Linked DNA regions of Homo sapiens: region 2 is linked to region 1. The links come from fine-mapping of genetic effects on gene expression. A gene starts in region 1. The other region holds a variant in brackets. All regions are shown on one strand. Distances are between the middles of the regions.

Region 1 (15,808 bases):
CAGAGTCTCACTGTGTTGCCCAGGCTGGACTGCAGTGGCGTGATCTCGGCTCACTGCAACCTCTGCCTCCTGGGTTCAAGCTATTCTCCTGCCTCAGCCTCCCAAGTAGCTGGGACTACAGGTGCCCGCCACCACGCCCGGCTAATTTTTGTATTTGTAGTAGAGACGGGGTTTCACCATATTGGCCAGGCTGGTCTCGAACTCCTGACCTTGTAATCTGCCCGCCTCGGCCTCCCAAAGTGCTAAGATTATAGGCATGAGCCACCGCACCCGGCCCTACAGACGTGATTTTATGATATAACCTTACCTTCATGAAGCTTAAAACATTCCTAAAACAGAACTCCCCCAACTATGACTTTTTTTTTTTTTTTTTTTTTTAGATGGAATCTCGCTCTGTCGCCAGGCTGGAGTGCAGTGGCGCGATCTTGGCTCACTGCAACCTCCAACTCCCTGGTTCAAGTGATTCTCCTGCCTCAGCTTCCCAAGTAGCTGGGATTACAGGCACAGGTGCCACCATGCCCAGCTAATTTTTGTATTTTTAGTAGAGACGGGGTTTCACCATGTTGGCCAGGATGGTCTTGATCTCCTCACCTCGTGATCTGCCCGCCTCAGCCTCCCAAAGTGCTGGGATTACAGGCTTGAGCCACTGCGTCCAGTAACTATGACTATTTATTGTAAGACTAAAATAATCCATGCTAATAGTCATTTCAATTATAATGTTTTTAATGAAATAAGGGAAAATAAAGAAAAATAAATCATTCTATCAAAAAGCCATATGCACTTGCATATTCACTGGAGCACTATTCACAACTGCAAAGATGTGGAGTCAACCTAGGTGTCCATCAATAGTGGACTGGATAAAGAAAATGCAGTACATATATGCCATGGAATACTATGTCGACATGAAAAAGAATAAAATCATGCCCTTTGCAGCAACATAGATGCAGCTGGTAGCCATTATCCTAAGCGAATTAATATAGGAACAGAAAACCAAATACTGCATTTCCTCACTTACAAGTGGGAGCTAAACAATGAGTAAGCACGGACCTAAAGATGGGAGCAGTCAACACTGGGGACAACAACGGGGGGAAGGTGGGAGAGGGGGCGAGAGTTAAGAAACTACCCATCAGGTACCATCCTCACTACCTGGGTGATGGTTATACATCAAACCTTAGCAACAGGCAATTTACCCATGTAACAACTTGCACATGTAACCTTCTAAAACTTTAAAGTTATGGGGAAAAAATATTGTTTAGAGAAATGTTTATTTTCATAAACACATTTGCTTATGAAACAATACTAATTTACGTTTAATCGTTTATAAAAATATAAAAGCAAAAAAATTAAAGGACACTAGTGTAATACAGCTTGCAGTATTTTTTCACAATTCTTTTTTTTAAGTATTCAGTAACTACTTAACTGACAGGAAAAAATAAAGAACAGGAATGGCAATTAAAATGCTAACTCTAATCAATCAATCATTTATCCAACAAATATTTGTCAAGCACCTAATATTGATTTAATTTTATGATATAATCTTACCTTGAAATTTAAAACATAGTTGTACCTTCCTAAAACAGAATTTCCCTAACTGTAAGACAAATAATTCATGCTAATAGTCAATTCACTTATGTTTTAGATGAAATAAAAATATTATTGTTTTAGATTACAAAAGTCATTTTTTTTTTTTTTTGAGACGGAGTCTCACTCCATTGCCCAGGCTAGAGTGCAGTGGTGCGATCTTGGCTCATTGTAACCTCCACCTCGTGGGTTCAAGTGATTCTCCTGCCTCAGCCTCCCTAGTAGCTGGGATTACAGGCACCTGCCACCATGTCCAGCTAATTTTTGTATTTTTAGCAGAGACAGGGTTTCGTCATGTTGGCCAGGCTGGTCTCAAACTCCTGACCTCAGGTGATCCACCCGCCTCAGCCTACCAAAGTGCTGGGATTACAGGCGTGAGCCACCAGGCCTGGCCCAGAAATTTGTTTTAAATTTAACTCTGTTACTGAGAAGACTTTATTAAAACAGCAAAAGCAAATCTTATCTTCATATGACCTAAATTATTATAATCTATAAAAAGAGATGTGGGAACATTAAAAAATCAAACACAAGTCTCTTTGTAGACAAATCCAATGAATCCATTTCCATTATAGTTACCTTAAGTCAGCCAAGTAATATACTGCTTCATTTATTCTCCATGCTCTTTCCCATAAATGAACTATGCTTTTCAAAAGGACATCGTTTTAAGCAAGGGGTCATAATGAAACATGTCTACCAAATAACCTATCACAAATGCTAGCATCTCAAAATCTAACACCACAAAAGTTTTTCTGTAATCCCAGCACTTTGGGAAGCTGACAGGAGGATTGTTTGAGGCCAGGAGTTCAAGACCAGCCTGGGCAACATATTGTGAGCCTGTCTCTTTAAAAAAAAAAAAAAGTTTTCAAATTAATGGTGAATAACTTTTGACACAAAAAATGTTTATGGCACTTCTGCTTGAGGTATAAAAATAATAAGCATAACTTTACTATACCTACAACAGACAAAAAGCAGAGTACAAAGCAGTAATATTAATAATAAAAGGTAAATACATAAAAAGAAAGAGGAACAGTATTTGGTATCAACAAATGTATATAAGGAATTCTAATATTCTTTCCTAATCAGATTCAAGAGTAATGTTTTTAATGAAATAAAGGAAAATAAAGAAAAAGGCATCAGAATTATATATCCTCTTGGACAATTTTTCCCTAAGTATGCTTCTCAAAATAATAGATAACAAAGTTCCCTAGAGGAAAAAAAAAGGTCTGGTCAGATAAATTTGGCAAACAGCTTACTTTTTATCTACATTTTAAAAATATCTGAAACTATAACACAGTGCCTGCTTACAAAACCTTGCATAAATACTAGAGGTTTTTTCTTTGTTAGTGGTCGTTGCACACACTTCTTTGCTGACAAAATTTTTTTCATGGACATCTATTCAAATTTTTTGAAGCATACCTTGGTAATGCTACGGCATGTATAATTTAAATGATTCTAACTTTTAAATGAACCCTATATAATCTACAAAATTAACCTTCCAAAAAGCCATGTAGTATTCAATAGGCCCTACTTAAAAAGAGTGCTTCGATATAGAAATGACCAAAACACAAATCATTATTACAGTTCTCTCCGACATTGTTATTGCAAAACAGGCCAAGAGAGAAAACACATTCCAGTTATGACATTGACCTGGTTATTAATGTAGAATACATCAACCCAAATAGGAATTTCAGACTACACATTTATAGTAACATGGTATAAAATGTGCTTGACTAAACGAAAACTATGTCTAAATTTAAGTCCACACTCTTTAATAACAATTTTTATTAAAAGAAAATATGGCTGTGTTTATATTGTTAGCCCTTCTGCTTTCTGAGACAGCTGATGAAAGTTTGATCTGGAAAGAGACCCCATAACAATGTTCTAATTCTGTATGCTTTTTCTGGACATTAGCAACTTTCATGTCTCGGGGTCCAACTTGAGAACAGAAAATGCCTCTATGATTCATCATCAAATGTAGTTAACACTTGCTTGGAATTTTCAAGAAACTAGCTTTAAAAAAGGTACAAGTTGGGGGCTGGGCGCAGTGGCTCACGCCTATAATCCTAGCACTTTGAGAGGCCGAGGCGGGCAGACTGCCTGAGCTCAGGAGTTCAAGACCAGCCTGGGCATCACAGTGCAACCCTGTCTCTACTAAAATACAAAAAAATTAGCCTGGCGTGGTGGCGTGCACCTGTAGTCCCAGCTGCTCGGGAGACTGAGCCAGGAGAACTGCTTGAACCCAGGAGGCGGAGGCTGCAGTGAGCCGAGATTACGTCACTGCACTCCAGCCTGGGCGACAGAGCGAGACTTCGTACCCCACCCCCCTACCCAAAAAAAAGGTGCTAGATAGAAGGCAGATATAACACTAAGCACACATAAGCTTACATTCAAAAGCATGAAGTCCCTGGTGGTCTAGTGGTTAGGGAAAAAGAGAAAACTAAAAAACAAAAGCATGAGTAGGATTTGTACTATAATAATATGCACCCAGCAAACTGTGTCAAGGCTAAAGAGGCTTCAATCACCAGAAATCAGTGTCAAGTAAAAAAGAGAAATGAAATGTAAAAGTACCCGACTCTGGGGCCAGGTGCCGTGGCTCACACCTGTAATTCCAGCACTTTGGGAGGCCAAGGCAGGCGGATCACGAAGTCAGGAGATCGAGACCATCCTGGTTAACACGGTGAAACCCCATCTCCACTAAAAATACAAAAATTAGCCGGTGTGGTGGCAGACACCTGTAGTCCCAGCTACTTGGGAGGCTGAGGCAGAAGAATGGCGTGAACCCGGGAGGGGGAGCTTGCAGTGAGCCAAGATTGCGCCACTGCACTCCAGCCTGGGCCACAGAGCGAGACTCTGTCTCAAAACAAAACAAAACAAAAACAAAAACAAAAGTACATGACTCTAAAACAGAAAAAGTTTAATGTGGATGAAATTCTGAATTTAAAATATCCAGTACTTTATAGAATTGACTATCCTATGATAAAATATTTACTACTTGACAGGTTCTCAAGAACATCTTTCTTTTTGAGACAGTCTCGCTCTCTCGCCCAGGCTGGAATGCAGTGGCACAATCTTAACCACTCAGTGGTTGCTCACTGCCAACCACCGCCTCGATTCTCCTGCCTCAGCCTCCTGAGTAGCTGAGATTATAGGCATGTGCCACCATGCCCAGCTAATTTTTGTATTTTTAGTAGAGACAGGGTTTCACCATAAAAATGTGCTTGACTCCAGAAAGGAGTTTGGCCAGGCTGGTCTCAAACTCCTGACCTCAAGTGCTCCATCTGCCTTGGCCTCCCAAAGTGCTGGGATTATAGGCGTGAGCCCCCGGCCTGAAGAACATCTTAATATCAGTCCAAAGTTACTCTTAACTAAGAGTATGAAAAGCTAGATACTATACAATCAATCACATAACTCTCACACATTTAAAAGATACTTAAATTCAATAAGAAAAAAAAAAACAAGAAAGCAGTCAAAGCATTTAGTAAATATGAAAAAATCCCTTAAGTAAAAAGCTTGACACAATGAACTTCATTTGAGAACTTCAGTTTCTAGTCTTTAAAAAGTGTTTTAGTACCTAGTAACGTAAGTTGCTATAATTACAGATCTGTGATTTCTTTCAAATAAAACTATAATTAATTCATTTCACAAGTATTTACTGGGCATCTACTACTGTGGAAAAACAAAGATTAAAATACATTATGAACCCTGCCCTAAAGACACTTTAAGAGTCTAGAAGGAATAAGATATATGCACACTGTAGTTAAAATGTAAAGGTAGCTCAGAAAGGAAAAAGCATCTGAAACGTGCTGGGGGAAAGTACAGATTAGGGGAGGCGCTGATGATGAATTTAAATAACAGGTCTAATTCAGACAAAGAAAAGAGCCCTTCCATTGGAAAAAAGATGTTAGAAAAAGCAAGAAAGATGGAAAGCCACCATGAAAAAAATTTAATTTTGCAGAAATGGAAAAAACTACAAAATAATAAATGATAATATAGAAGCTAGGGGTTCCAAGCTCTGGTAACTCAAATATCCTGGCCAGACTAAATCATCAATTAAAACATCTAAAATTGTATATACACTCCACTGATGCTCTATAAATACTTCTAAATTAGTAATCCATGACCCCTTTTACCTGTTGTACTTCCTGGTGGAACGAAATAGTGAAACAAATTTTATTCATACTGTACCTCAGAATAATAATTTTCAGAAGGCAAATTGCTTTATTGTGGAGGTGATTAAAAAGAAAAAATAGAAGACAAATTACTTTTCCAATTTTAAATGTACATACTCAAAGTTAGGCAAGAACAAGAAAGGACCCTTTCAGTTTATATATACAACATACGCAAGTGATACTCAAGTTTCACTTTGAAATTGTGATATAAAAACTATGTTGTTCCATCCACAGTGGCAAGATCAAAATGTTCTAGCTCCAACTCTTCAACCTTGTGCAAGCTACTTTAGTGCTCTGTGACTATAAAATGAAGAGGCTCTATCTGGGACTTTCTAGCTTTAAAATCCTATACACTGTGAATTCTATTCCATCTTTTCTACAGAAGTCACTGTGACAAGGCCAATAATAACAAAAACAGGAAAGGGTATTCTTCGTTCAACCCACACATAGTAAAAATTACCTCTCATTATACATCTACTAAGTGCCAGGCTCTTTCTACTTATTTCACTTAATCTTCATTACATCCTAAAAAGCAGGCATTTTCCTCATTTTACTTAGAGGGTATTAGCTATCTCTTACATATCCAATCCAATCAGGGGTGGAAAGCCAGGATTCAAATCAAAGTCTAACTCCACAAAGCAAGCTGTAATAAACCATATTTCATAACCTGGTGCCACAAACACAAATATCAGACAAAAAAGTGGTGGGCTGTGATTATGGTATGACTCTGGTAATCTAGACAGAACATGATCTTCTAGTAGGGTAGCTCAGGCTGCCTTGTTGCCAAGTGGGAATGGATGAGTGAAGCCAAATGTGTGCGTGTGTTACAGTGAGAGACAGAAAAGTGATTTTCAAATGAAAGAAACAGATTTACCGGCTTTCATCTTATGCTTTAAACAATTCTAACCAGACCTGCGCAGTTATTTTTTTTTTTTTTGAGATGGAGTCTCTTCATGCTGCCCAGGCTAGTCTCAAACTCCTGGGCTCAAGCGATCCTCCTGGCTTAGCATCCCCTTAGCTGGGATTATAGGCCTGTGTCACTGCGACTAGCTGCAGTTAATTTTAGTAATACTATATAAAGTTCCCAAAAAGTATTGAAATACAGGCATGAGCAATAAAGTGAAGGCTTTGAAGTAAGGTACCTCTTGGTTGAATCCTGGCTCTATTATTAGCAGTGTGACATTGGTCAAGTTACTTCACCCCTTTTTTTTTTTTTTTTTTTTGAGACAGAGTTTCGCTCTTGTTGCCCAGGCTAGAGTGCAATGGCACGATCTCTGCTCACCGTAACCTCCGCCTCCCGAGTTCAAGCGATTCTCCTGCCTCAGCCTTCCGAGTGGCTGGGATTACAGGCATGTGCCACCACGGCCGGCTAATTCTGTATTTTTAGTAGAGACGGGGTTTCTCCATGTTGGTCAGGCTGGTCTCGAACTCCCGACCTCAGGTGATCCGCCGGCCTCAGCCTCCCAAAGTGCTGGGATTAGAGGCGTGAGCCACCGCGTCCGGCCTACTTCACCCCTCTCAGTCTCATTTTTTGACTTTTAAGGTGAGAATACTCTCACCTATCTTGCAGGGTAGTTAACGATTAAAGCATAATGTGGAATATAAAGAGCTCAGCACAGAACCTAGCACAAGGTAAGAGCCTGACAAATGAAAGCTACTATATTATCCCTCAGGATCCCATTAACAAAGTTAGCCATTAAAGTGTTATACTTAGTCTCTTTTATGTAGATCTAAAATTCTTCTCAAATAAAAAGTTTATTTCAAAAAGGCATACACCCTCGATTCCATTAAACACTAACCAAACTTCAAAATAAGTGTATTCTAAACCTAGAATCTAAGCAACTATTAAATAATGTTTTCAGCGGCTAACCATTTTTTTTTTTTTTTAAATAACGCCGCAAATCATGTCATTAGGAGTTCAGGCAGAAAGCGGTGGACGTGTCCCCAAAGCAGTTTGAGCGCTTAAGATCCCTACTACGTTCAAGGTAGCATTTGCCAAATGATATATATTTGGGTGAGCCCGAAAAGCCGGATCTGAACAAATAACACCAGGCAGAACGACCGCTCTTCCAGTTGATGGGACAGGAGCAGGTGGATTTGTCCTTCAAAGAATATCGTTTTATTCTTAGCCAAATGCTCTCACCAACAGCTGGGTTTTAAACCTTCTCGCAGTTTTCCCCAACGCCCCAGTTTCAGACTGCGAGGGAGGGAGCAGGACTTCAGGCTCCTCTCGGCCAGTGCAGACGAGCGAAAGAGAAAGAGGGAGGGGCCCACGGCCCCGAGGGGCGTGGGAGGCAGTTCGGGCCAGCTCGGCCGCGCATCCGTCCCTTCCCGTGCGGTACCACCTGCGGACCACTCTCCTAGCCCGAGCTTCAGGGCCTACAGAGCTGCGGGGCGCGGCCGCCGTCAGTCCGGCCGAACGGCAGCAATGGGGACTGAGCTGGGGGCGTGATTGAATAACTCTGGGATTTCAGGAGCGGAAGGAGGGCAAAGGGGGAGGCGGCATGTGGATGCCCCCTCCATGGTGGGACGCTGGAGGTGACCTTCGGGTCTCCGAGTGCTCCGTCCCCGTCCCTGCCCGGACCCCTTCCCAAGTCCCAGACCCGCTGCTCCTCTCACCGTCTCGGCTTCTGTGTGCTGGGGTCCGGCACTCTGACCCCCCATTACCCCGCGGAGGAAATTCATCTTGCCGTTCAGCCACCAGGTTTACCGGCCCCTCCGGAAAAAAAAGAAGACAACTTCCCCCGCCCTCCGCAGGGCCTGGGCCCCAATCCCGCACTCTACACACTCCTACTGCTGCCACCACCGCCTCCAACTCGGCGGCCACTCCAGCCCTCTAAGCCCGGAAACAGCCGCCAGCAGCGGCCAAGATGCGCATGCGCGGGGACGTGGCATTACGTGGCGGCTCGAAGGTTGAAGGCAAAAGGGGAGCGGAGGCGAGAGGAACCTCTTAGCTAGGTTCCGCCGAAGCCCCACCCACTGCGCAGACCCCGCCTCCCACCGCAGGGGCACGCCTCCTACCCCCACCCTTCGCGGATTGATCCTGCTGGCCGCAGCCACCCACGTGGTGGAAGCCCGGCCCTGCAGGCTGGAGAGGATTTGATTAGACTACGCGTTTCGACTTGCAGGGTGTTTAATCGTCGCCAAGCGGGACTTACTGCAAGCTATCAAATCTGAGGTCTTATTTTGTTGAGTCGAAAGTGAAATTTTCCTTTGGCCAACGTGACAGGTAAGGCTTCCTGGCGCCTGAGAGGGTTCGCTTGGTTTGACGGTTTACTGGTACCAGCATTGTGGCTTTCTGATCCCGGTAAATTGCATTTCTTTACAGGGCTTTGTTTGGTGGTAAAAAGGGTTACTAGACACCCCTCATTCCACTGCCACTGGAGGGCGCATTTCTCAGCTCTTGCTCTTCAAACCTGCTGAAAGGAATTCCTAGATCTAAACACCAGGTACACCTCTATTTTCAAGTGTCGTCAGGAGGAAACCCATCAAACCCTACATTTAGCTTACTAGAGAAATACATTGTTCTGCTGTGTCAGTTTGGCGAGTAACATAATGTTTCGTTATTAACTCTCAACCCCTGTGTTTTCAGTTTTTTTTTTTTTAACATGAAAAATTGTCATTTTCTCTAATTGGTATGCCTGTTCCTTTGGCAGTGAGGTTGTCAGTACACATGCTTCTGGAATAGTCTTGTAAATTTCTTGAGGCTAAAAAGCACAGGTCTAGTTAGCTAACTGACTCATGCACCTCTCCCCTTGGATTCCCCACAGGTCTCAGATTCAGCATTTAAAATTGAACTCGTCATCTTTCCCTGCCTCCCTTAAAGAAAAAAAGTCAATATGCTGCTTCTACTGTGTGCGTGCCGTGCTCAGTAGTACCACTGTCCAAATAATTGCCTAAGCTAGACAGAGGAAGCTGGGAAGAATCTTAGACTCTGGCTTTCCACCCACACATGTCCAATCAATAGTCATGTCCTATCATTTCTATTTATAGAATATTTCTCAAATAGGTGTTCTGCTCTCCATCCTCTGTGCCTGTGACATAGATTATGTTCTTCTCATCATTTCTCATTGAGATGACAGCAACAGCCTCCTAATTAGTTTGTCTGCATTCAGCCCTGGCTTCCTTCCAGTCCAATCTCCAGTCCATCCTTGGGTGAGACTAACAACAACAAAACATCTGTTCATGTCATTCCTCTTAAAATCCTCCAGTTGTTCCCCATTCTGTCCAGAATAAAGTGCAAACTCCTTAGTTTGTCATACAGGCCTGTTATGATTTAGCTCCTGCCTACTTTTTCAGCTCCTGCCTCCCCCACATACTCTGGGCATTTTTCTCAGACCTGGATATGCCCTTCCCTTCCTTTCTCTTCATCAAGCAAACTCCTGCTAATTCCTTAAGGCTCAACTCTGACATCATTCTTGAAAGCTTTCCCTAAAATGTAGGTACACATCTATATGTTAGCACTTTGCAGTTATTGATACTGTATATGGTGTACATTGAATAAATGCTTGCTAAACCAAACTGTTAAGGGCAGGACTATGTTATTCATTTTATATCTCTGTTGCTTACCACTGTCTCATAAAAGGTGATATTGATGGATAAATGAATAAATTATTGAAAGAATATATGAATATTATACTAAGAGGAGGTTCCCTTTTTTTAATCTGTAAAGTGAAATTGTAGGGAAGACATCATAAGCTATGTGTTTCCTAGTGCCAACATTTTAAGCCTGGGCAACTTGGAGAATGGTGGGGTCATACTGCCAAAAATACTGTGCGCTAAGCATTGTCCTCTGCTTTAAAGCTATACACTTGACATTTTACCGTAGACATTTTCCATGGGAGCATTTTGTTGCAGCCTAAAAAAAGTAACCAGTAAATTACTCAGCATTTTTGTTACTAAGAAATGCATGCAAAGAACTTCACTTAAGCCCCTAAGCCTCACCCCTCCCTGAACCTCACTTCACCTTGTCCCTGAAACTCACTCTACCCCATCATCAGGAATGAGGCTCATAGACGGAGTGGGCCACAAATGTCTATTACTCCTCTTATTTAATAATTAAAAAGAGTGCCTTGACATTTTAGCAAAGTTGTTTAAAGGCACCAGCCTTGTCAAATGTCCTGTTTTGTTTTAAACTTTGGTGGGTACAGTAGGTTACTGTACTTCAGTGAGTAAAGTAGGTTACTATACTTTCGTGAGTGTAGTAGTAACAGCTTACTATGAATTTTCCCTGCATTTGACCTGTTTTCTTCCCCAGCAGCATCCCCTGCACAGGAGTGATGGACAGTTGGGTGCAAAGGTGATGAAGGTGGGATCCCCGAGGCATTGTCACTACAGAACAACCATGAAATAGACTCCTTATTTCAGAGGAAGAGTTACATATTAATCCACTTCTACTGATTTTGTAGAGGGAGAAAAGTCAGGGACTGTGTTGTATTCCTGTTTGCATCCTTTAATCATCTAGTATAATTCCTTTAATATGGTAGATGCTCAGGAACTACCTGAGTTAATAAAGGAAGAGAAAACTTGAACAAATTGTGACGGCCTGACTTGCACTGTTAATACTTCTGGCTTTCATAAATCTAAGCATTCAGGATAAGAGTCCTATGAATCATTAAAATACATATAATCAAAATTAAGAGTGATCTTTTTCTAAACCAAACCTGACAATAGATCAACGAACAAAATTCATTGGTTTGAAATTCATTTTTTCAAATTGCTTTTTTCAGTGGCCCACTTAACTTTCTAGTGGAAAACTCGCAAAAACAACGAAATATAATTGCATAAGATTGTTTTTTAGTTGGGGTGGTAGTAAGGTGGAATGTTGTCTATGCCTGCTTGGGAGGATAAATATAAATGATCATTTGTATTTGAAATCTATCATATATAGGTTTTTATTTATTTATTATTTTGGTAGGTTATAAGCCCCTTCAGTATCGTATATAGGTTTTTAAAGACGTAGCTCATGGCTATAATCCCAGCACTTTGGGAGGCCAAGGTGGGAGGATCATTTAAGCTCAGGAGTTCAACACCAGCCTGGGCAATGTGGCAAAACCCTGTCTCTACAAAAAATAAAATATTAGCTGAGCATGGTGGCATGCGCCTGTATTCCCAGCCAGTAGTCCCACTTACTTGGGAGGGTGTGGGAGGATCGCTGGAGCCTGGGAGATCAAGGCTGCATTGAGCCATGATTGTGCCACTGCATTCCAGCTGGGAGGATGGAGTGAGACCCTGTCCCAAAAAAAAAAAAAAAAGACTAGTTGAGGCTGGGCGAGGTGGCTCACGCCTGTAATCCCAGCACTTTGGGAGGCTGAGGTGGACGGATCACCTGAAGTTGGGAGTTCCAGACCAGCCTGACCAACATGGAGAAACCCCGTTGTCTACTAAAAATACAAAATTAGCTCGGCGTGGTGGCACATACATCCTGGAACTCCTGGGTTCAAGAGCTCTTCCTGCCTCAGCCTCCTGAGTAGCTAGGACTACAGGTGCACACCATCATGCCTGGCTAATTTTTTTTTTTTTTTTTTTTTTGTAGAGATGAAGTCTTGCTATGTTACCCAGACTGATGTCAAACTCCCGGCCTCAAGCTATTCTCCTGCCTCAGCCTCCCAAAATACTGGGATTGCAGGTGTGAGCCAACTGCCCCAGGCTTCAAAATATTTTTATTTATTTATTTATTTATTTATTTATTTATTTATTTATTTATTTTGAGATGGAGCCTCGCTCTGTCACCCAGGCTGGAGTGTAGTGGCGCGATCTCGGCTCACTGCAACCTCGGCCTCCCGGGTTCAAGCGATTCTCCTGCCTCAGCCTTCCAAGTAGCTGGGAATAGAGGCACATGCCACCATGCCTGGCTAATTTTTTGTATTTTTAGTAGAGACAGGTTTTCACCGTGTTAGTTAGGATGGCCTCGATCTCCTGACCTTATGATCCGCCTGCCTCAGCCTCTCAAAGTGCGTGAGCCACCGCGCCTAGCCCTCAAAATATTTTTTTTTTTTTTTTTGAGACGGAGTCTCGCTCTGTTGCCCAGGCTGGAGTGCAGTGACGCGATCTCAGCTCACTGCAAGCTCTGCCTCCTGGGTTCATGCCATTCTCCTGCCTCAGCCTCTGGAGTAGCTGGGACTACAGGCGCCCGCCACCGCGCCCGGCTAATTTTTTGTATTTTTGGTAGAGACGGAGTTTCTCCGTGGTCTCGATCTCCTCATCTCGTGATCCGCCCGCCTCGGCCTCCCAGAGTGCTGGGATTACAGGCATGAGCCACCGCGCCCGGCGCCCTCAAAATATTTTTAAAAGCCTTAGGAAATCCTTGGGAGAGGAGAGTCCAAGAAAGAAGGTTTTGGTAGCTGGGCGTGGTGGCCTATCATTCCAGCTATGCGCAGGAGGCTGAGGCATGAGAATTGCTTGAAGTTGCAGTGAGTCAAGATTGTGCCACTGCACTCCAGCCCAGGTGACGGAGTGAGACCCTTTCTCAAAAAAAAAAAAGGGTTCTGGGCCCCCCCATCCTGCTCCATTTGATTGGTTTCATTTGTTTATACTTCCTGTTTCGCTTGAACAAAAAGATTCAGAGGCTAAAATGTTGGACAGCTACCTCTCTCAGGAGATAAGAAATGAGACCAGGCCGGGCACGGTAACTCACCCTTGTAATCCCAGCACTTTGGGAGGCCGAGGCGGGTGGATCACCTGAGGTCGGGAGCTTGAGACCAGCCTGACCAACATGGAGAAATCCCGTCTCTACTAAAAATACAGAATTAGCCGAGCGTGGTGGTGCATGCCTGTAATCCTAGCTACTCGGGAGGCTGAGGCAGGAGAATCGCTTAAACTGGGAGGCGGAGGTTGCAGTGAGCCAGGATCTTGCCATTGCCCTCCAGCCTGCGCAACAAGAGCGAAACTCCGTCTCAAAAAAGAAATGAGACCAAGGTAAGGACTTGGAATAGTTGAGGTGTCTCACATGCTATAGAGCCCAGAGTTCCTGCTTTACTTTTTTTTAAAGGAATGGTAATTGTTGCCTCCTGTGGTTGTTTTTGGGATTTTATTAGATAATATCTGTAACGTTCATATTACTTAGTACTTGAAACATAGTAAGTACTCAATAATGATTAGAGTGGAGACCCTGATCATCTTCGGTATTATCAATTTCTTTTTTTTTTTTTTTTTTTTGAGACGGAGTCTTGCTCTGTCGCCCAGGCTGGAGTGCAGTGGCGGGATCTCGGCTCACTGCAAGCTCCGCCTCCCGGGTTCACACCATTCTCCTGCCTCAGCCTCCCAAGTAGCTGGGACTACAGGCGCCCGCCACTAAGCCCGGCTAATTTTTTGTATTTTTAGTAGAGACGGGGTTTCACCGTTTTAGCCGGGATGGTCTCGATCTCCTGACCTCGTGATCCGCCCGCCTCGGCCTCCCAAAGTGCTGGGATTACAGGCGTGAGCCACGGTATTATCAATTTCTTAACAACTGAACGTTTAAAGATATTACCCTGTAAGTCTTCAACTCCAGCCCTACTAGCTCATGTTACTGAGAAGTCTGTTACTTCAGATGAGGCTTAATCTGGGGTATCAAGCCAATTTCCCTGTTATCTGGGTTTTCACTATTTCTGGACTCTGCTCTCCTTAACTGTTTTTGTTTTTTTTTCTCTAGCTCCATGCGGGGCAAGATGGCTGCCAGGACCTATAGTCCTAGTATCCTAGGCCCAAGTTCATCAAAGACTCCCAACCTCTCTCCTAAGAGTCCCAGCAAAAGTCTCCTTGTGACTCATTTTACCTGATAGGGTCGCATGCCTATGTGGTGAGCTAATTCCTGTAGTTTAAGGTTTGAGATGTTCTGATTGGCCTTGAGTCACATTCCCACCTCTAAAGCAAGGAGTAGAAGTCTTCATCTCATCTCAAAGCATATGGCATAGGAGCTGGGGAACAGGGACATTCACATTTCTCCTAGGAAATCTGGAATAGTATGCCAGGAGAATGTTTATCAGGATAAGAAAAACAATACATGCTCACTGTATCCCCTAACGTACTTAAACTGCTTGCCAGTTTTTTTTGAAATTATTTTTCCAGCCTTATCACTAGTGTATGCTAGCATAAGTTCTGCCTCTCTGCAAAGATTCAAAAGATCATGTTACATTATTTAATAAACGTAATTTGACATTGCATTGTACTTAAATCAGCAAGCAAATCTATACCCTTTTTTTAAAGAAAGTATAACCCAGGTGTGTTTCCATTTTTAAGAAAATACAATAAGCAGAATTACTTATGAAACACCTAAAAAAAAAAAAGAAAGAAAGAAAGAAGAAACACCTAAATTAGGAAATCCCATTTTCATTTCCAAAGGACTTTTTATTTTTATTTATTTATTTATTTTATTTGTAATTTTTTTTTTGCGACGGAGTCTCATTCTGTCTCCAGGCTGGAGTGCAGTGATGCTACCTTGGCTCACTACAATCTCTGCCTCCCAGGTTCAAGCTATTCTGCCTCAGCCTCCCAAGTAGCTGGGATTATAGGTGCGTGCCAGCACACCCAGCTAATTTTTGTATTTTTAGTAGAGACGGGGTTTCACCATGTTGGCCAGGATGGTCTTGATCTCCTTACCTCGTGACCCACCCGCCTCAGCCTCCCAAAGTGCTGGGATTACAGGCATGAGCCACCACGCCTGGCCAAAGGACTTTTTATAAAACTGTTTATCGAGGGACAAGTTTATCAGATCCAGGCCCTAGCACTGTTTCTTGTGGAGAATTTGACTGTTACCTCCCAACACCATTGTCTCTCCCCCAACACCTCAAGCCAGCTGAACAAGTATGTCCTGAATAGCCAGGGTAGGGTTGCAGTCTTTACTGTCCCATTCAATAGCTAGACCAAAGCCTTTGAAGTTCGCATTGGGTGATGCCAAGATTCCATGTAAGCTTAAGATGATTTTAATGGAGTCATTGCCAACTTCCCAGCAAGCTATGATTTTAGAGTAGTTGGCAGCTGATCTCTGTCATTTGCCTGAGGCTATGCCCCAAGCAAGTATTTGTGGCAGGAGGGAGTGACAGAGTTGTCTCTTGAGATCAGACTGGGCCTCCAGGCCA
Region 2 (15,808 bases), 570 kb before region 1:
TGGAGTGCGGTTGGCACAATCTCGGCTCACTGCAACCTCCGCCTTCTGGGTTCAAGTGATTCTCCTGCTTCAGCCTCCTGAGTAGCTGGGATTACAGGCATGTGCCACCACACCTGGCTAATTTTTGTATTTTTAGTAGAGACGGGGTTTCACCATGTTGGTCAGGCTGGTCTCAAACTCCTGACCTTGTGACCCGCCCGCCTCAGCCTCCCAAAGTGCTGGGATTACAGGTGTGAGCCACTGCACCTGGCCTCAGTATTATTCTTTAACTGCTTTCTGATTCCACCCATCCACCCAACCACGGAACTGTAAATATTGTTATCTGTGAACATTTGTCAAAAAGAAAGTTGATGTGTCACCAGTACCTTACAGTGAACTTGTTTGATATTTTAAAATCAGTTTAGAGGGAGGACAAACTAAAATAATGCATTTTTTTATTGATATGTCATATTTGTACATTTTTATGGGGTACATGTGGTATTTGTTACATGCACAGAATGTGTAATGATCAAGTCAGGGTATTTAGAGTATCCATCATTCTATGTGTTGGGAACATTTCAAGTCCTCTCTTCTAGGTATTTTGAAATATATAGTACTTTGTTACTCTGGCGTCAAATATTACAATTAATTCCTTCTATCTAACTGTCTGTATTAACCAACCAACCTCTCTCTTTATTCCTCCCCCACCCCCTACACACCCTTCCCTGCCTCTGGTAACTATCATTTTGCCCTCTACCTCCACGAGGTCAACTTTTTTAGCTCCCAGATATGAATGAGAACATGCAATATTTGTCTTCCTGTGCTTGGCTTATTTCACGTAATATAATATCCTCCAGTTTCATCTATGTTGTTGCAAATGACAAGATTTCATTCTATAGCCAACTTAGATTTCATTATGTATTTGTAAACTATTCATCCAACAAGGGACAAATATCCAAAATATACAAGTAACTCAACAGCAAAAGAACTAATAATCCCATTAAAAAGTGGGCAAATAATGCATTTCTAATGTAAGAATTTTATACCCTGCACACCTACCTTGGAGGGTGATGGGGGAAAGCAGGGCTTCCCCACCTCTTCTAACCAGAATGTGTAATACTGCCTATTCTGCCCACAGTGAAAGCAGGCCCTGTGAGCACACCATTGCTCATGCCCCAGGAGAAAATTGAGCTAAGTCACAAAGAAATGCAATAGACCAAATTCATTTTTAAATGTTCATTTTTAAAAATGTTCACCAATGATAAAAATAAATTCAAATATAAACAATATATTTTAATAGGGAAAAAATTCAACCTTTTTGGAGGCAACTTAGCACTCTATATCCAAAAACCTTAAAGAACAAGACAGAATAAACAACTATGTGAGTGTGTGTGTGTGTGTGTGTGTGTGTGTGTGTGTGTAGCTGCATGTACATATATCCTTTGACATAGCAATTCAACTTCTGGGAATTTTGGGTGAGTAGAGGCCAGAGGTGATACTAAATATTCTACAAAGCACAGAACAGTCCCTCACAACAAAGAATAATAAGAAAAATTCGATCCAAAACATCAATATTGCCTGGGCTGAGAAAATCTGCACCAGAGCATGTGATCTCAGGGAAAGCAAAGAGGGAACACAATGCCTTTTACAGTCTAGTTTTGGAATCACACATCGCTACTTCTGCTACATTCTATTCTTTAGAAATAAGCCACTAAGCACAGCCCACACTCAAGAAAAGCAGAATCAAGCTTCATCTTTTGAAGGAAAGAGTATCACAGAATTTGTGAACATATTTTAAGACAAGACCAATCTGTCCTCTAGCCACAAATTACTTACATTCTTTTCATATGTAAAATATACTTACCCCCACAGCCCCACCCTTACAAAATCCTCCCATAACCCCTTTACAGCATCAGTTTGGAATCCAGAATGTTAGAATCTGAATCAGGCCCAGGTACAGATGAAACTGCTTAGATGTACTTCCTAAGTACAATTATTCTAATGCATTTCCTTTCAATCTGAAGACAGAAAGGTATATGCCTATCCCTCCCACCCCCACCCTCTGTAACATCACCCAACATATAATAGTAGAACAGACACAATATAATCACCATATACAATCATATTCCAAAAATAGGAGAAAAATAGAGGCATACAGGAGTCACTGCTCCATGGCAATTCTGTAAAGCAGCCAAGGAAATTGTAGAAGGTCCTCAATTAGAACTTTGTTCAACTAGGAATAATTCTGCATGGCCTTTGTTTCCACTTTCTTGGTTATGTCCTCTGAGTCATCTGTTCTATAATGGAAGCACATATGTGTAGCTGAGAAGTTCTCTCAGTCTGCTTTCTGCCAGTAGAACTATGGAGATCCAGAGGCCTCTTTTCATTTCATACTGTCTTTGTCCCTTTTAGTCCAAGCTGGCAGTTTTTATTCCAATACAATTCTTTGAAAAACTTTACAGATTTCCTGTGACTCTTATTGGGTCCATGCCATTTTTCAAAAGCCAAATCTACAAATCAATTCAAGATAAGCCCTTCTCTACCATGGGCTTCTGGTGAAGAACAACATCTTCAGCTTCTTAGAAGCTTTATTTGTTTGATCAAAAGAAACTGTAGCACACCTAAGAAAATTTTAGGGAGCCTTTTGTCTAGTTGAACAGTACGCTGAGGCAACACCTTTTATCTTTCTGAGGTCTTAACAAAGGATTTAACAGTTACATCCTTACATCCTTGGAGTCTTCTTTAGACCATGTTTTCCTGGCAATGTCCTGGATTTTGTCTTTGCCCCATATCATTCCTTAATTTAAACATTATCTGCTATCCAAGAGGCTAGACATTTCGAAACCATAAAATCCTGGTTCCTCTTTTTAAGCTGTCCTGCTTTAGCTTATCTATTTCTTCTTGCATTTTGCTGTAAGCAGCAAATGAAAACCAGGCAGTATCTTCAACATTCTGTATGAAAATCTCCTTCGTTAGATCATCCAGCTCATCAGCTGCCTTTTCTACATTCCATGTGGGCTAAACTTTTTGCTATTTCATAACAAGGAGACTGTTTCTCCCACTTTCCAATAACATTACCTCATTTTCCTACAAGCTGTCACCTCCTCAAAGGCTTCTACTAACAGTGTTTTTAAGGCCCTTGAAGCTTTTACTAACAGTCTTCTCAAAATTTTCCAGCTTCCACCCCACTACCCAGTTCTTCTCCCTCCCACACTTTAGGTTCTTGTTATAGCAGCACTCCACTTCCAGGTAACAAAATCTATATTAGTTACCTATTACTGCTTAACAAATAAATCTTAAGCTTAATGGCTTAAAACAACAAACATTATAGTGGTTTTTGTGATTCAAGAATTCAAGAGCAACTTTGTGGTTCTGGCTCAGGACCTCCCGTAAGACTACAGTCAGGATGTCAGCAGGGGTTGCAGTCTCATCTGAAGACTTACTAGGGACTGGAGGATCCACTTCCTAGATGGCTTGCCCCATGGCTGCTAGAAGAAGGCTTTAGTTCCTTGCTATGTGGGCCTCTCCATAGACAACTTTAGTGTCCTCACAACATGGCAGCTAGACACTCCCAGAGCAGATGATCCAAGTGAGAACAAGAAGGAAGCCACAATTTCACCTGATGTGATTGGGACTCAGAAATCAGGCATCATCACCTTTCCCACATTGTCTTCATTAGAAGCAAGTCGCTAAGTACAGCCCACTAACTACAGTCACTAACTACACTTGAGTGGAGGGAATTAGACACCACATTTTGAAAAAGTATCAAATAATTTGTGGACTTTTTTTTTTTTTTTTGAAACAGAGTCTTGCTCTGTCGCCCAGGCTGGAGTGCAGTGGTGTTATCTCGGCTCACTGCAAGCTCTGCCTCCTGGGTTCAGGACATTCTCCTGCCTCAGCCTCCCGAGTAGCTGGGACTACAGTTGCCTGCCACCATGCCCAGCTAATTTTTTGTATTTTTTAGTAGAGATGGAGTTTCACCGTGTTAGCCAGGATGGTCTTGATCGCCTGACCTCATGATCCACCCGCCTTTGGCACACCAAAGTGCTGGGATTACAGGTGTGAGCCACCAGCCTGGCCAATTTGTGGACATATTTTAAAACAAACACAAATCCCCAAATCAGGGGCTCTTTGGAATTTTCTAAAGAAATATGTCTTGAAACTGTTGAACTGGGAGAGAGAGAGATAATTGACTGTTTAGTTTGCTAAGTTAAGACATCATTTGAATTCACAGGTTTTTAGGATACCTTATGTGAAGCTAGAACATTGTTTGGAAAAAGTGAGACCCTGAATCCTGAAATGGGAACATATGGGAAGATACGGTGGGCTCCAAGTACCCTAAACTCCCAACCCTATGAAAATATGCTACTCAGATCATCTGCTGCAGAGAGCATCATTGGCTGGTGGACCAAATTGCTGCCTCCCTGGATCCTCCACCCTCACACTGAGGCCATGCTTCTCATGGGCTACCCCTAACCAATGACTGAGCATGCCAGAAGCACCAAGGTAGTCCCATTCTGGCAAGAAGTGAAACTCCTCCTCTAGGCAACTTCAACTTGAGGACTTCCTGCTGGACTGGCGAAACCTTTATTTGAATTGTGCTACAGTCCAAGATTCTTCTTACACCAATCTTCTTTCCTTCCCTTATTCCTTCCACAGATATCAGACAGGCATCACAGTCTAAAGCTCTCTCTATCTTTTCCCATTCCTTCCTTCAGTAAAGCTCAAGAACATCTATTCCCATCTTGCCATTGCTTCTTGGCACACCTGAATTAATGCAGCCTTCCTCGTCAGAGAAAATCTCCCTTCATGATGAGGCTTTTTCCATCTTTCATGAAGACTCTGTAATGTTATTCTTTGTGGGAGTAACCTTACTGGAGGTAGGGGAAAACAATTCTCTTCATTCTTTGCTCCTAACATCCCTCATTGCCTTGAATTCTATAGTCAATAAGGTGCTAGAGACAGGTTGTACCAACTCACAAAGGTCAACTGACAAATTTTCAAGAATTTAGTGAGCTGATTGCTAAACACAACCATTATTAAAACAAATTATATATACTTACAGTTAAATAAATGATGTGAAAAACAAAGATAATTACAAACTCATCACTTCCTAGTTGACAGCTTTTTATTATTATCTATGCTGCTCAGATTATTTATATGTATTATAACTGGGTGTTGGAAATACTCTATAATGGTGTGTCTTTGAATTTTGGAGACCAGATTTAGACATGCTGTTTCAGCTAGTTTTTTTAATAATCTGAGAGGTTGCCAATTTTGAGTGCAGCCTGAAGCAAGAGTATGCTTTCTCACTGGTCCAGGAAGCTCTGTCTTCTGATCCAGTGGATCCAATGTTATTGAAATGCCTGTGGCAGACAGGGCTGCTGAATGGAGCTTTGGAACATCCAGCACAGGCTCTGAGAGTTTTGCAGCCAAGCCACGGATTCTGTGGCATGTAACTTTTCTCCTTTTGAGAAACAGATTTTGGCTTGTTGCTGAGCACTGGTAAATACAGCAGCCTAATCTCATGGCTAGCACTCATCATAAGCTGGGGACTATCTGATTCACCACGCCATAAAGTCAGCTAACATTTAGTGTGTGTGCACAGTGTGCCAAGCTCTGCTCTAAGTACTTTACTTGCAACATTTCCTTTAATCCTCACCACATTTCTGGGAAATAGTACTGTTATTGTAATCATCCCTATTTTAGATGAGAAAATTGAAGCAGAGAGAGGATAAAAGCAATTTGACCATAGTCATATATCTAATAAGTGGCAGGACTTGGTTAGAACACAGGCCCCCTGGCTTCAAAGTACACATATTAAATTACCAAATTGTATTGCTTCTTATGATCAAGTGAAAGTTTCCTACATAAGATTGGGCTTGAGCAGAAATTGAAGACACAACAAATTGCATGGTGTTCCCACTCCTACCACATTACCATTTTTTCCTCAGCCTACACCTCTGACTTCATGGTATGTTCTCTAAGTCCAACTGACTAGACAGCAACCAGCACAATATGACAGCACCAGCCACAAGTAGACTACAGCAACATTATAGGCCAACTTGAGGGTGACCCTGAAGATCAACAAAGAGGAATCTTCCAGAAGGCAGAATTTTAAGCATTTTATCTTGCTGACCACTTTGTCTGAAAGGAGAAATGGTATGAGGCACAGATATCACCAGTTAATGGTCATTAGCTGACGGTGTAGCTCAGCAGCCAAGACATGGAAGGATCAAGAATGCAAGTCTGGTGACAAAGATGTTCAGAGGAAGAGGTATCTATGGGATCTCTGAGAATGAATCCAGAGTATGAGGATATTTGGTTCTTTGTGAATGCCACCCAAAGGCCCCCACTGGAGAGGAAGTGCTCAATAGTCAAGAGAAGAGGTTGACCTGGCTCCTGCATGCCAACTCTCTCCTTTCTGCAGGCACTCCAGTGTTGCCCAATGAGCGAAGTAGGCATAGTAGCAGAATCACAGGCTACACGGGGGTTTAGCAACTTGGATTTCCCTCATCAAACCTGATCTGGCCACTGCTTCTGTTAAATATTTATTTGTCCAGGAAATAAAACTAAAGTCCCTGATGTGAATTAGGTTTGAATGGAACAAAGCCAGGAACAATGTGCCTGGGGAAAGAAGTGGATTCCCTCCAGACTACCACTTCCCGTAGCCTCTGCTGCTCAGCACCTGAAAGCCAGACTGGCTTGCAGAGGATCAGCTCTCCCCTTGGTGCTCCCTTGGACTTCCAAACATGTGGGCACTTTAATGAGTTGAAACATTAAGAGAGTTTGGGAAATGCAGCCATTAGTTTTCCAGCCTCTACAGTAGGAAGGCAAGCTAGAAGGAGGTCATAATGGTCGTTGAATGAGTGGGTTCAAAGAATGTCCCAGACCTCTTCCATTATCATGAAAGGGGCAGTAATTTATCTTTACTGGAATAGTAACTTATTCTGGATTGGGATTTGCTGACCCTGCCTAACAAATTTCTGCCCACACCAACATTCATTATTTATTCTGCACCAGCAACCAATATATGCTGTTTTTCCCATATTCAGCATACATGGGTGTAGCATCAGGAGGAGCACCTCCTTCAGAACCACTTGCAAAACTGTTACTTCTTAGCCCCATGAACTGGGCTCTGGTGATTTAAAAGCTTGAGACAAGGTGTCTATCAGTAGAAAAAAAATAATAGTTCCATTGAATTAGAATCTGAGACTGCCACCTGGTCATTGTATGGACTCTTCATGATCCCTGAAGAACAAGAAAAGGAGAGAACTATATGAATCATCAACAGCAAGTGAAAACTGATTGACAGTAGAGTCATGGAAATCAAAGGACCCCTTGGAGTTCTACCTAGTGTTGTCATGTCTACTAATAAAAATGTCCTGGCTGGTCAGGACCAGCAAGACTCAGGCGCTTTGTGAATAAAGGTTTAGGTCACTCTCTTAAATATTTTGTAACAGTTAAGGGACTAGCCAAAGGTGAAAAGAATGTGAAATGGGAAGTGGAGAAGGGAAATTATATATAGGAACTATGGCCTCTTGACCAGTTGTAGAAATGAACACTGTTGCATCTATCTGCATTTTCTTCCATGTCATGTATATGCCATTTTTTTAAGTTTCTTCCTCTTGTCTCTTTCTCCACAAAGGGTGTGTTATTGGTGATCAAATTTACTATGTAGTCAGTTCAGCATACAGATTACTGAGATGAGGTCATCACAGACCCAGAGGATGAAATGCCAGCCCCCAGGGATTTTGTATTTGAAGGCAAATGCAGTAATGGATACAACTTTGAACTCATCACTTTTGAGAACATGATTGTGTCCTCTTCTGCAGGAGGGATGGTTGTATTAATTAGAAAAAAGGTTTTTTTGTTTGTTTGTTTCTTATGCTTTTTTCTTTATGAAAAAAGTAGATATTGATATTGGGCATTCAAGAGGCTAGTCATCTGAACTCCATATTCTAAGAGGCACCTGAACCCCCTGACCTATGGGGGCAGAGTCCCCTTACACTGTAGGAGCTAGAAATGCCATATACTACTTTTCTTTGCCTACTTCACTCATAGGCATGGATCTGGCTCCGCCAGTCAAGTGCCTCATCAGAGACCCTGAGATGAGTAGGCAGAACCCACACTGGGCATGGATGCTGCTGCTGGGTAAGGTGCTGGCACTGGTGTTGCATCTATGTTCAAAGACAGCAGTGGAGGTGGCCCTGGGGGTAACTCCAGCATCCGATGATGGTGACTTCTGTGCTGGTTGCCATGTCTACGCCAAGGGCATCAATAGAGATGTGTTCACCAGCTCAGTTTTGAGGCATGAATTCGGGTATTGTT[C/T]CTGGGAGGGCAGACTCAAATCCGAGCCTCTGTCCATAAAGATATTCTGTGGATCAAGATGAAAAGCAGAGGATCTCGGAAGATGAATAGGAACAGCTCCTATCTGCAGCTACCAGCAAGAACAACGCAGAAGGCGGGTGATTTCTGCATTTCCAACTGAGGTACCCTGTTCGTGTCATTGGGACTAGTTAGGCAGTGGGTGTGGCCCATGGAGGGTGAGCAGAAGTAGGGTGAGGCCTTGCCTCACCCGGGAAGTGCAAGGGGTTGGAGACCTCCCTCCCCAAGCCAAGGGAAGCCATGAGGGACTGTGCTATCTGGCCCAGATACTACGCTTCTCCCACAGTTTTTGTAATCTGCAGACCAGGGGATTCCCTTGTGTGCCTACAACACCTGGACCCTGGGTTTCAAGCACAAAACTGGCCAGCTGTTTGGGCAGACACCAAGCTAGCTGCAGGACTTTTTTTTTCGTACCCCAGTGAGGCAGAACTGTTCACTCTCCTGGAAAGAGGACTGAAGCCAGGGAGCCAAGTGGTCTCGCTCAGCAGGTCCCACTCCTATGGAGCCCAGCAAGCTAAGAACCACTGGCTTAAAATTCTCGCTGCCAGCACAGCAGTCTGAAGTCAACCTGGGACACTCAAGCTTGGTGGGGGTAGGGGCGTCCACCATTACTGAGGCTTGAGTAGGTGGCTTTTCCCCTGACCATGCTAAGGACTGGGTAGAACCAAACAAAGCAAAGCAAAGTGACTGTGGCCAGACTCCCTCACTAGATTCCTCTTCACTGGGCAGGGCATCTCTGAAAGAAAGACAGCAGCCCCAGTCAGGGGCTTATAAATAAAACTCCCATCTCCCTGGGACAGAGCACCTGGGGGAAGGGGCAGCTGTGGGCGAGCTTCAGCGGACTTAAATGTTCCTGCCTGCCTGCCTGCTATGAAGACAGCAGTGGATCCTGACAAGGAGGATTCTCCCAGCACGGCACTCAAGCTCTGCTAAGGGACAGACTGCCTCCTCAAGTGGGTCCCTGATCCCTGTGCCTCATGACTGGGAGAAAATTCCCAACGAGGGTTAACAGGCACCTCATACAGGAGAGCTCTGGCTGGCATCAGGCTGGGGCCCCTCCAGGATGAAGCTTCCAGAAGAAGGAGCAGGCAGCAATCTTTGCTGTTCTGCAGTCTCCACTGGTGATACCCAGGCAAATAGGGTCTGGAGTGGACCTCCAGCAAACTCCAGCAGACCTGCAGCAGAGGGACCTGACTGTTAGAAGAAAAACTAACAAACAGAAAGCAGTAACACCAACATCAACAAAAAGGACACCCACACAAGAAACCTCATTCAAAGGTCATCAGCCTCAACGGTCAAACATAGATAAATCCATGAAGATAAGGAAAAAACAGTGCAAAAAGGCTGAAAATTCCAAAAACCAGAATGCCTCTTCTTCTCCAAATGATCGCAACTCCTCTCCAGCAAGTGCACAAAACTGGACAGAGAATGAGGTTGACGAATTGACAGAAGTAGGCTTCAGAAAGTAGCTAATGACAAACGCCCCTGAGCTAAAGGAGCATGTTCTATCCCAATGCAAGGAAGTTAAGAACCTTGACATAAGGTTACAGGAACTGCTAACTAGAATAACAAGTTTAGAGAAGAACATAAATGACCTGATGGAGCTGAGAAACACAGCATGAGAACTTCGTGAAGCATACACAAGTATCAATAGCCGAATCGATCAAGCAGAAGAAAGGATATCAGAGATTGAAGACCAGCTTAATGAAATAAAGCATGAAGACAAGATTAGAGAAAAAAGAATGCAAAGGAATGAGCAAAGCTTCCACAAAATATGGGACGATGTGAAAAGACCAAACCTATGATTGACTGGGGTCCCTGAAAGTGATGGGGAGAAAGGAAACAAGTTGGAAAATACACTTCAGAATATTATCCAGGAGAACTTCCCCAACCTAGCAAGACAGGCCAACATTCAAATTCAGGAAATACAGAGAACACCACTAAGATACTCTCGAGAAGAGCAACCCCAAGACATATAATCGTCAGATTCACCAAGGTTGAAACAAAGGAAAAAATGTTAAGGGCAGCCAGAGACAAAGGTCGGGTTACCTACAAAGGGAAGCCCATCAGACTAACAGTGGATCTGTCTGCAGAAACCCTACAAGCCAGAAGAGAGTGGGGGCCAATATTCAACATTCTTAAACAAAAGAATTTTCAACCTAGAATTTCATATCCAGCCAAACTAAGTTTCATTAAGTGAAGGAGAAATAAAATCCTTTACAGACAAGCAAATGCTGAGGGATTTTGTCACCACCAGGCCTGCCTTACAAGAGCTCCAGAAGGAAGCACTAAACATGGAAAGGAAAAACTGCTACCAGCCACTGCAAAAACACACCAAAATATAAAGATCAGTGATACTATGAAGAAACTGCATCAACTAATGTGCAAAATAACCAGCTAACATCATGATGACAGGATCAAATTCACACATAACAATATTAACCTTAAATGTAAATGGGCTAAATGCCCCAAATAAAAGGCACGACTGGCAAATTGGATACAGTCAAGACCAATCAGTGTGCTATATTCAGGAGACCCATCTCACATGCAAAGATACATATAAGCTGAAAATAAAGGGATGGGGGAATATTAACCAAGCAAATAGAAAGCAAAAAAAAAAAAAAAAAAAAAGCAGGGGTTGCAATCCTAGTTTCTGATAAAACAGACTTTAAACCAACAAAGATCAAAAAAGACAAAGAAGGGCATTACATAATGGTAAAGGGATCAATGCAACAAGAAGAGCTAATTATCCTAAATACATATGCACCCAATACAGGAACACCCAGATTCATAAAAACAGTTCTTAGAGACCTACAAAGAGACTTACACTCCCACACAATAATAGTGGGAGACTTTAACACCTCACTGTCAATATTAGATCAACGAGATAGAAAATTAACAAGGATATTCAGGACTTGAACTCAACTCTGGACTAAACAGACCTATCTACAGAACTCTCCACCCCAAATCAACAGAATGTACATTCATCTCAGCACCACATAGCACTTACTCTAAAATAGACCACATAATTGGAAGTAAAACACTCCTCAGCAAATGCAAAAGGAGAAGAATCATAACAAACATCCACTCAGACCACAGTGCAATCAAATTAGAACTCAGGATTAAGAAACTCACTCAAAACTGCATGTCTACATGGAAACTGAACAACCTGCTCCTGAATGACTACTGGTAAATGACAAAATTAAGGCAGAAATAACGAAGTTCTTTGAAACCAGTGAGAACAAAGATACAACGTTCCAGAATCTCCAGGACACAGCTAAAGCAGTGTTCAGGGGAAATTTGTAGCACTAAATGCCCACATCAGAAAGCAGGAAAGGTCTAAAATCGACACACTAACATCACAATTTAAAGAACCAGAAAAGCAAGACCAAACAAATTCAAAAGCTAGCAGAAGACAAGAAATAGCTAAGATCAGAGCAGAACTGAAGGAGATAGAGACAAGAAAAACCCTTCAAAAAATCAAACAATCCAGAAGCTGGTTTTTTTAAAAGATTAGCAAAATAGATAGACTGTTAGCCAGACTAATAAAGAAGAAAAGAGAGAAGAATTAAATAGACACAATAAAAAATGATGAAGGGGATATCACCACTAATCCCACAGAAATACAATCTACCATCAAATAATACTATAAACAACTCTACTCAAACTAGAAAATCTAGAAGAAATGAATAAATACCTGGACACATACACCCTCCCAAGACTAAACCAGGAAGAAGTTGAATCCCTAAATAGACCAATAACAAGTTCTGAAATTGAGGCAGTAATTAACAGCCTACCAACCAAAAAAGGCCCATCAGTGCAAAAATCCTTAGTAAAATACTGGCAATCCGAATCCAGCAGCACATCAAAAAGCTTATCCACTGCAGTCAAGTCGGCTTCATCCCTGAGATCCAAGGCTGGTTCAATATGCACGAATCAATAAACATAATCCACCACATAAACAGAACAAATGACAAAAACCATATGATTATCTTAATAGATGCAGAAAAGGCCCTCAATAAAATTCAACACCCCTTCCTGATAAAAACTCTCAATAAACTAGGTACTGATGGAACAAAATAATAAGAGCTATTTAGGACAAACACATAGCCAATATCATACCGAATCGGCAAGAGCTGGAGGCATTCCCTTTGAAAACTGGCACAAGACAAGGGTATCCTCTCTCACCACTCCTATTCAACATAGTATTGGAAGTTCTGGCCAGGGCAATCAGGCAAAAGAAAGAAAGAAATATTAAATTAGGAAGAGAGGAAGTCAAATTGTCTCTGTTTGCAGACAACATGATTGTGTATTTAGAAAACCCCATCGCCTCAGCCCCAAAATCTCCTTAAGCTGATAAGCAACTTCATCAAAGTCTCAGGATACAAAATCAATGTGCAAAAATCACAAGCATTCCTATACACAAATAATAGACAAGCAGAGAGCCAAATCATGAGTGAACTCCCATTCACAGTTGCTACAAAGAGAATAAAACACCTAGGAATACAGCTTACAAGGGACGTGAAGGACCTCTTCAAGGAGAACTACAAACCACTGCTCAAGGAAATAAGAGAGGACACAAACAAATGGAAAAACATTCCATGCTCATGGAGAGGAAGAATCAATATTGTGAAAATGGCCATAACTGTCCAAAGCAATTTATAGATTCAATGCTATTCCCATCAAGCTATCATTGACTTTCTTCATAGAACTAGAAAAAGCTACTTTAAATTTCATATGGAACCAAAAAAGAGCCCATATAGCCAAGATAATCTTAAGCAAAAAGAACAAAGCTGGAGGGATCATGCTACCTGACTTCAAACTATACTTCAAGGCTACAGTAAACAAAACAGCATGGTACTGGTACCAAAAAGACAGATAGACCAATGGAACAGGACAGAGGCCTCAGAAATAACATCACACATCTACAACCATCTGATCTTTGACAAACCTGACAGAAACAAGCAATGGGGAAAGGATTCCCTATTTAATAAACGGTGCTAGGAAAATGGGCTAGCCATATGCAGAAAACAGAAACTGGACCTCTTCTTTACACCTTATATAAAAATTAACTCACGATGGATTAAAGACTTAAACATAAAACCTAAAACCATAAAAACTCTAGAAGAAAACCTAGGCAATACCATTCAGGACATAGGCATGGACTAAGACTTCATGACTAAAACACCAAAAGCAATTGCAACAAAAGCCAAAATTGACAAATGTGATCTAATTAAACTAAAGAGCTTCTGCTCAGCAAAGGAAACTATCATCAGCATGAACAGGTAACCTACAGAATGGGAGAAAATTTTTGCAATCTATCCATCTGACAAAAGCCTAATATCCAGAATCTACAAGGAACTTAAACAAATTTACAAAATAAAACACAAACAACCCCATCAAAAAGTGGGTATAGGATATGATCAGACACTTCTCAAAAGAAAACATTTATGTGGCCAACAAACATATGAAAAAAAGCTCATCATCACTGGTCATTAGAGAAATGCAAATCAAAACCACAATGAGATACCATCTCATGCCAGTTAAAATGGCGATCATTAAAAAGTCTGGAAACAACAGATGCTGGAGAGGATGTGGAGAAATAGGAATGCTTTTACACTGTTGATGGGAGTGTAAATTAGTTCAACCATTGTGGAAGACAGTGTGGTGATTCCTCAAGGATCTAGAACCAGAAGTACCATTTGACCCAGCAATCCTATTACTGGGTATACACCCAAAGGATTATAAATCATTCTAGCACATGTATGTTTGTTGAAACACTATTTACAATAGCAAAGACTTGGAACCAACCCAAATGCCCATCAATGATAGACTGGATTAAAGAAAATGTGGCACATATACTATGCAGCATAAAAAAGAATGAGTTCACATCCTTTGCAGGGACATGGATGAAGCTGGAAACCATCGTCCTCAGCAAACTAACACAGGAACAGAAAACCAACCACCACATGTTCTCACTCATGAGTGGGAGTTGAATAATGAGAACACATGGACACAGGGAGGGGAACATCATACACAGGGGCCAGCCAGAGGGTGGAGGGCAAGGGGAGGGAGGGCATTAGGACAAATACCTAATGCATGCAGGGCTTAAAACCTAGATGACAGGTTGATAGGTGCAGCAAACCACCATGACACATGTATACCTAATGTAACAAACCTGAACATTCTGCACATGTATCCCGGAACTTAAAGTAAAAGTTAAAAAAAAAGATACTCTGTGGACAGAATATGTTTTTAATAAATAATTTCCTTTCAATAAATCCTTTTTTGATTAAATTATTCCCTATATGTTTCATAGAAAAAAATCTAGGATACATTCCAATGAGCAAAGAGCAGTTACTGCTAACTCTATAGGAAGAATTAGTATTTTCTATGTTCTTTTTGCTAGTCTATGTTTTCTGATTTTCCTAATATGAGCATTAACTTTTTTTTAGAGACAGGATCTCACTCTGTCACCTAGGCAAAAGGGCACTGGCATGATTATAGCTCACTGCAGCCTTGAACTACTGGATTCAAGCCATCCTCCTGACTTGACCTCCCAAAGCACTGGGATTATAGGAGTGAGTGGTCACACCCAGAGAGTATTAACATTTTAAAATAAAATATAATTTTTAAAAGGTAATTAAAATACATGTCATCTTGAGTTTCCATTAAACCTTCTGACCTATGACCTTATGTTATAGATACACATTTATTATCAACACTAACATGCCTGTCTTAGTCCATTTGTGTTGCTACAAAGGAATACCTGAGGCTGGGTAATTTTTAAGAAAAGAAATTTATTTGGCTCATAGCTCTACAGGGTGTACAAGAAGCATGGTGCCAGCATCTGCTTCTGGTGAGGGCTTCAGGATTCTTCCACTCGTGGCAAAAGGCAAAGGGGAGCTAGCATGTGCAGACATCACATGGTGAGAGAACAAGCAAGAGAGAGGAGGAGGAGCCAGGCTCTTTACAATAACCAGTTCTCACAGGAACTAAGAGTGAGAATTCACTCACTCCTGTGAGAATGGCACCAAGCCATTCACGAGGGATCCACCCCCATGACTCAAACATCTCAAACCAGCCCCCATGTCCAACACTGGGGATCAAGCTGCAACATAAGATTTAGCGGGGCCAAACAGACCATATCCACCCATGGCAATGCGGACAAAAGGAAAAAATATCTCAGTAAATTTAATTCAAAATGAAAGAAAATAATATTGTAAAGGAAGAGGAAAGGAGGTACTCATTCAATACCAGGGGAAAAACCTGGGAAAAAGGCAATAGAGTAAGTCTGTTTTTATTTATGCCTTTATTTATTTTTACCAATAGTTGATATACCTATATAATATTCACGTGCCACAAAAATATGAGAAGATTACATGTGAATATTGATCTCATGGGTGATAAAGTATACAAAATGTTGATTAACTGAAGCAGA

Direction of the effects. Positions count from the first base shown, and alleles are read on the strand shown. Sizes are in standard deviations (SD) of each study's normalised expression.
For the expression in cerebellar hemisphere of the gene that starts at base 8,678 in region 1, C is the low allele of the variant in region 2 and T is the other (large effect, 1.2 SD a copy in GTEx).

What was found. PIP is the estimated chance that this variant, and not a neighbour inherited with it, causes the effect.
Region 2: its variant is fine-mapped to the expression of USO1 in cerebellar hemisphere (GTEx, PIP above 0.99).

What each region holds. Positions count from the first base shown.
Region 1 is chr4:75,717,447-75,733,254 of GRCh38, reverse strand. USO1 (USO1 vesicle transport factor) reads right to left here and starts at 8,678. Exons shown (of 24, transcript NM_003715.4): 1 at 8,370-8,678. The coding sequence starts at 8,435. It also overlaps a transcript of G3BP2 not described here. RefSeq lists silencers at 8,210-8,387, 8,722-8,891 and enhancers at 8,472-8,551, 7,648-8,567, 8,568-9,488.
Region 2 is chr4:76,283,636-76,299,443 of GRCh38, reverse strand. The region is part of intron 6 of FAM47E-STBD1 (FAM47E-STBD1 readthrough); the gene reads right to left. It overlaps FAM47E (family with sequence similarity 47 member E), which reads right to left. Exons shown (of 8, transcript NM_001136570.3): 8 at 15,661-15,808. Among named protein-coding and RNA genes, the nearest start is that of STBD1, 15 kb to the left of the region's middle. The variant C/T (reference allele first, on the strand shown) is at 8,311.